Linked DNA regions of Homo sapiens. The protein of the gene in region 1 interacts with the protein of each later gene in a pairwise test. Each region holds a gene or a part of one and is shown on either strand. Other genes may lie near its edges. The genes, in order: USP40 and EPB41L1.

The links.
Region 2: the proteins of USP40 (region 1) and EPB41L1 interact in a two-hybrid assay, tested with the Homo sapiens proteins (one study listed by BioGRID).

What each region holds. Positions count from the first base shown.
Region 1 is NC_000002.12:233,556,574-233,560,598, forward strand, and holds part of USP40 (ubiquitin carboxyl-terminal hydrolase 40), read right to left. Parts: intron 3,352-4,025; coding exon 3,238-3,351; intron 447-3,237; coding exon 282-446; intron 1-281. UniProt on the Homo sapiens protein: May be catalytically inactive.
Region 2 is NC_000020.11:36,230,520-36,233,299, reverse strand, and holds the end of EPB41L1 (band 4.1-like protein 1), read right to left. Parts: 3' UTR 501-2,780; downstream 1-500. UniProt on the Homo sapiens protein: May function to confer stability and plasticity to neuronal membrane via multiple interactions, including the spectrin-actin-based cytoskeleton, integral membrane channels and membrane-associated guanylate kinases.

The DNA.
Region 1 (4,025 bases):
GAGGCCACAGTCTTCTATTTGTAAATATCCCCCAAATCTATTTTCCAAATATTAGGGTACTGAATAAAAGATTAAGTTTCAAGATATTTGCTTCTTTCAATCTACATGGAGAAATCTGGATTATAGGCTCATGATTTAGGTGTAGTTAGAAGAAAAAAAAACTCAATAAATTACTTTTAGTAATAAACACTTTAATCCTTGTGTGGTATATATCATACATTTAATTACATGGATTATAATTTACAACATAACTTATTACTAAAATACTCTGGCATATTTACCTGCCTCTCGCTAACGTTCTTACATTCTTTACAAACAATCTGGTTAACAATGGTTCCATGGTACAGACGATAGATGAGGTCATGACCGGAGGTCCCAACTAAAGAAGTTTCCAAAGCGCTGAAGAGGATTCGATTCAGTTCCTGCACATCATGTTGCCTCATTTCCTACAAAACAGGTAACTTTTAGATGTAATTCCGGGCTTCAGATTTTTTAAAACATTAAAAAAACAAACATTAGTCAATAAAAACTCAAGATTTATCAAGCAATCTGAAGATCAGATATAAGAATGACTCAGCAAAACAAGCTGAGCTGGTTAAGAGATTACCACCTATTTTTATTTATACTAAAAAATGAAAATATGAACAGGCTGGGTTCAGTGTGTACATGTAACTCAATTCCTTTGACACCCAGAATGTGCATTTATTCTTGTGGGAAACCACACACATGGCCATGCCACAGAAAGCAGAGAGGGATATACCAGGCACAGACCAGTGTCTAAGAGCTGGCAGTGTCTGCACAGGAACACCTCACTGAGATCAGAGCACATGTGAATAGTCCGAATTATCAACAATAGAAAAGAACTAGAATGTACTGCTTTGAAGTAAAAACAACTAAAACAAGACTAACACAGTGTTACTGAGAAAAAAATCCTGATGGAACTTGCTTTAATCCATTATGAGTCACGCAGTTGTGTGTGAACTTGTGCTTAAGAAAAATTTATAACCAAACCAAGGGGCACACCAAGACTGAGAAGTGGAGAAGAGGAGGAAGAGCAGCTGGGGGGAGGGCCAGGAGAGTGAGGCCCCAGGAAGCAGGAGGAGCTGAGGCTTTAAGGAGGGTGGTGAGTGCTGCTGAGAGCTCCTTCTGCTGAGAACAGAGAAGTGTCTTCTGGACTTGGCACAGGGATGTCACTGTTGACTTCAACCAAAAAAGTAGAAAGGAAGGAGAGGAACAAATGGAGAGTTCAGAAGCAGAGGCAATAAGGGAAGACAATTTCAAAAATAAGTTTCAACCAAGAGCAATAGCTCATGCCTAAAATCTCAGCTACCTGGGAGGCCGAGGCAGCAGGATGCCTTGAACCCAGGGCTGCAGTGAGCTATGATCATGCCATTGCACTCCAGGCTGGTGACAGTGAGACCTCATCTCAAAAAAAAAAAAAAAAAAAAAAAAGTTTTGTGTGAAGAGCAGCAGATAAAGTGGATGAAAGCTGGAGGACTTCTATCTTGCCTTTTAAAATACAAGACCCTCAAGGATGTAATTTATCTAATATCACTGGCTATGATGGGATAGAAAACTTGTGGAAGTTTTCAAGCTCTGTTCCTAAACAATCCTACACTTCGCAAAGGTACCACAGAGACCTTCTCCTACCACTGCAGGTCCAGTCCTAGAGGGTTTTCTGCAAGATCTTATTTAGACAAAAAACAAAAAAAATTTTCACAGCATTAAGAAGAAACCAGCAACTTAGTGAAGCTCATTATCAAAAACAAAGAAAAATCTATCAACCAATGACTAGATTAAAAAAAAAAAACAAAAAACATGTGGCATATCCATCTAATAGAATCTCATTTGGCAATAAAATGGAATGAAGTATCGACACATACTACAACATGAATGAACCCTGAGAACAGTACTTTAAGTGAAAGAAGACTGTTACGAGACCACCTATTGGATCACTCCATTTCTATGAAATGTCCAGAATAGGCAAATTCATAGAGACAGAAAGGAGGTCAGTGGTTGCCAGCGGCTGAGTTGAGGGGGATGGAAAGTTACTGCTAACGGGTATGGAGTTTCTTTTTGGGGTGGTAAAAATTTTCTAAAATTGATTGTAGTGATGGTTGAACAACTCTGTGAATATGCTAGAAAGCACCACTGAACTGTACCACTTAAAAGAGTGAATTCTGTGGCATGTAAATTACATCTCAATACAGTGTTTTTTTTGTTTGTTTGTTTTTGTTGTTAATCGGATTAACGCCAAATACCAGCCCTACACCAGAAATTTAACATACTTGTTTAGGGAATGTATTATACCCCATTTTGCTTGAAAGTCCATGCCTTACCTCCTTAATCACATAGTTAGTATCACCTAGTTAAGAAGTGTTCCTGGTTAGAAGACTACCCTTCAGAGTTTACCATTAAAGGCAATATAACAGTATTCCTATCGTTTGCTCTTTAACTTCTGTGACAGTTGCCTATACCTGTCTTTGCAGGATTACATCCATCTATTCCATATAAAAATGGTAGACTGGGATTTGTTTGGATTTGTATAGCTATAACAGCTCATCAATATGTGCAACAAGCACCTTTACTCATTGCTGACAAGTGTGTAGTGTTCGTATACAGTAGAATGCCTTTTAGAACTCAAACAGGAAAGTGAGAGAAAGCCCACATACAACAAGATTCATAAAGAAAATGGAGAAGGTCAGGAGAAAGTCAGGACAGGAATAAAAAGACCTGCCAAGAACCATTTCACTTTTTTGACTGAAGCAAACCTTCAAATCAGAACATGTGGATTCAAACACAAAGCACATAACAAACAAAGAATTTTTAAAAATTTACTTACAATGTAATTGATCCATTATTGTTGGTCAAAGACTAAAAAACTGATCAACAGTTTCCTATATAAATGGTAGGTAATCTCCATGTAATCGGTGTTGTATCTCAACTAGACTACATAAAGACTCTTAGGGTAGAAATTGTAAAAATCAGCTCTTGTACTTCTCCCCGTTTTTCCAATCTTCTCCCCAGCCCCAAATCACAGCCATTCATAAAATCCTGTATACAGCAAGTGTCTAAAAATATATATTTCTGGCTTGTAATTTTTTAATGTGAGAAGGAAACATTCAAACAATATGTTGAGACCCTAAGACAAAATTAAAGGAAGTTAGATAACATTAAACCAGCCTTATTCTTTCCTCTATTGCTGGTAACTCTTCCTTAAAGAGCTGATCCTCGTACCTCATTACTGGTCCACCCAAAGCTGTCAGTGAGGTCTGCTGTGGATGCAGCTTCCTGGTCTAAGAGCAGAAGCTGAGCAAACAAGCGCTGTAACTGTAAAGGGATGATTCGAACCTGAATGAGAAACAAACACATTTCTAAATGAATTCTTTAAGTGTTGACTAAGGCTTTTGAAAACAACTGCATACTAGCTTTTTTATATCTCCCAGTTCATTCAGGAGAAAGTTTATAAATATCCTATTATAAGGGAAAAACTAATTATGATTCAGTTCTTCTGTGAAAATTATAATGCAATCTAAAAAATAATAGTTATTTGGAGTTTTCTACCTTGATATGGTTCAGACAAACATTAAAACTCAAATAGGCCTTAATAAACCACTCAACTGATTACAGATTGACAGTAGTTTGAATCTCTTCTAATAGTCCATTATTTCTCTAAAATACCTCTGATACACACAATTTCCCCTCTGTAGAAATTTTCCAGGCACAATACTGTATCTCGCTCTGGAGTTCTCAGCACACCCTGCCTCACTTTCTCCTGGCTCCAAGTGAGTTCCTGCCTTACTTGATGTGGTGAGGGCTGGGGCAGACTGAGCAATGTTGCTCAGAGTCTGGTCTGTAGGCTAGACTTTAAGTATTTAAAGGAGAATAAGCATTTAGAAATTGTAATGGCAATTTGACATTCCCATGGCATTTTTATTATATACTAGAAAAGTGCTAATCTGCAACAGATTGGGAATAAAAAGAAATACACAAAAACAGGTCCTTTGCCACACAGGTAGCCTGAG
Region 2 (2,780 bases), on another chromosome or scaffold:
CACGTCCTGGGGCCTGTATGCTTACTGTTCCCTCTCCTAGAATGTGCACCAAAGTTCCTCGCCTTTGTTGATTGATCCTTCTTTTCATTCAGCTCACAGATCGCCTCCTCAGGGAGGCCTTACCTGGCCACTGTATTTAAAGTGGTCTCCTTCAGTGACCCTCCTTCCCTTCTCCCGGTGTATTTCCTTCCTAGTGCTGAGTGCTCTGTAACGGACTGTTTGCCTGTGTTGGCATCTGTTTCCTCCACTAGCCTGTGGGTTCATGAAGGGCAGGGACTTTTGTCTTGTTTGTGTTGTGCCTGGAGAGTCACCCAAGGCCTGGACCACCTTGAGTTCCAAATATTTGTTGCATAAACATGTTCTAAGTTGGGATGTCTCCACTTCAGTTTTAGCCCCTCCCACAGTGCCAACTTGTACCAGTGGCCAAAGTCAGAGAGAGACAGTGAGAGAGAGAGAGAGAGAGAGAGAGAGAGAGAGAGAGAGGAGAGGTGCCAAGGAAGTATGGTTCAGCATCAAACACATTTATTTCACTTATATTGAGTATACAAGAACAGAGAGCACACGCATACAGCACGGAGCACTGAGGTGGGGGAGCATGGGGACGAGAAAGGAGAGAAGGGTGTGAGTAAAAAGGAACAGGACAGCATCGCAATTGGTTGTTAAGGTGCTTTTGAAAAAAAAAATTATTTCGAGTGATGTTGCTCATGCAGTTTCAGGCCAGTCTTGGAATGTGCTTGCAGGATTCAAAAACTGAAACAGGTCCTGGTACTTCCTGTACCCTCAGATGGAAAAGATCCAGAGAAAACAAAATAAGAGAAAATGAAGACCCATGAGATAGCAAAGTAGAAAAAGACCCTGGAGAGCATCTGGTTCTTTCTGCTTATTTTGCAAGTCGGGAAACTGAGGCCCAAGAGGGGGAATGGGGATAGCCTGATGTCACATGGTGAGTTAGGAGCTGAGCCAGGATGGTCACCCAGAACTCCTAACCGCCCTCAGGGACTTTTTCCACTATGCTACATGGCCTCCTGGGTGGAGAGGTGGCACAGAGAGGATGAGAAACAAAAAAGAGAAAAGGAAAAGTAGGTTGAAGACAGACAAGACAAACGTCTCTATTCTCTACAAAGAGAAGGATGGGGAGGAAACAGTGCCCTAGATTCTAGCTTTGCAGGTCCCCTCCTCCCTCGTGGCACTGCCTGCATCTCCGTAGAAGGGAGGTCACAGCATCCGCGGGATGGTGATTTCCCCAAACCCTGGTGGCCCATAAACTCCACAAGCTAAGCCTGGTCACTTCACCCCTGCCCCAAAGCCAGGTGCAAAATCCACAACAAGGATCCTCCCTCTGAGGTGTGTTCAGTGTGCTCAGGACTCCTGGTTCCTGCAAAGATGAGTTCCTAGACCGAAGTGGCCCAGAGAGGATGGAGCCACCACTCCAGCTCTTGACCCAGAAAGAGGGGGAACTCTCAAGAAGGGCAGGAAGAAGGTTCTGTGGCTTTTCCACCAGGATTGTAGAAAGAACCTGGTGTATGGAAAGTGTGCTGCTACACTCAGGGGGAGTTGGAGTGGACCCACCGGCCTGCACCAGGGGGAATGCCACTGATTCTGCTGCCCCGCTGAACTTCCCATTTGCCCAGAGAAGCAAATGCTATTCTGATTTCCTGCCCTGCCTCAGGCCAGCACCAGCTAAGCAGCTAAGGTGTATGTCATCACTGACAAGCCAAAGGGACGCATCTAACCTGGGCCGCCTGGGGGCATCCCTGGGCTATGCCCCGATAGGTTGGCGAGAGTGGGGAGATGCTCTCAGATGGGCCAGCCATGGTTGAAATATAAAGCTGGCTCAGGTGGCTCCTCAGGTTCCGCCCTCCCCTCCCACCTTCTTCAGCCTGAGAATAGTCCCTGGCACAAGCAGGTAATCAGTAAATACTTGTGGAATGAATTTATTAACTGGTTTAGAAGGAGGACTGGGAGGTAAAATGGAACTGAGAAATTCGCAGTGCAGTGGGACATTTTCCCTCATCAAGGGGCACTTTCTGAGCTCAGAGAAGTAGCTTGTGGCAGACAAGCCTGAGGAAGCCCACGTGTGGCAGAGAGCAATGCCAAGCTTGTGATGGGAGCTTCTTGAAGGGTTCCTGTGGTCTTGGGGTAATTTCTGGGCACAAGCTCAGAGTTCAGCTGTTGACTGAGAGGGAGGTCTCCAAGCCAAGGTCTTATGCAGAGCTGGAGCCTATGAGCAACATCACCCGTCAGTCTCAGCTTTGTCCTGGGACAGGGGAGGGCTTTGCAAATGCAGTTTTGATCTTTCAGGGTCTGCCCCATGAAGCCTCCTTACCATGGCTACTTTGGCCTGAGAAGAAGAAATGATTCAGAACAAGGAAGAGAGTAGAGGAAAAGGCTTAGCTGGGAATTTTTAGACAGTCAGGTTAAAGCCACCATCTTCTACAATGGCTGAGAGCACCACCTCCCTTTGGATATGGAGTTGGTTATTACAATGGGGTCAGGGAAGGGCAGAATGTGGCAAAAAAAAAAAAAAGAGAGAAAGAGAGAGAAGACTGAAAACCAAGGCAAGCCCCGTAGGGAGATAAGGACTAAGCCAGGGACCTCTACTGTGGCAACTTCAGCAGCAGAGTCCCAGACTGGGACCCAGTACCTGAGCACAGACCAGGCCCTGACTGTTACTACCAGGGGGGCAGGGAGAAGGTGTCTTGAACTGGCATTTTGGGGACGACATCTGTGTTGCTTCTTTCTTGCCAAACCCACACCTCTCCATTAGGGCCCCCCACCCC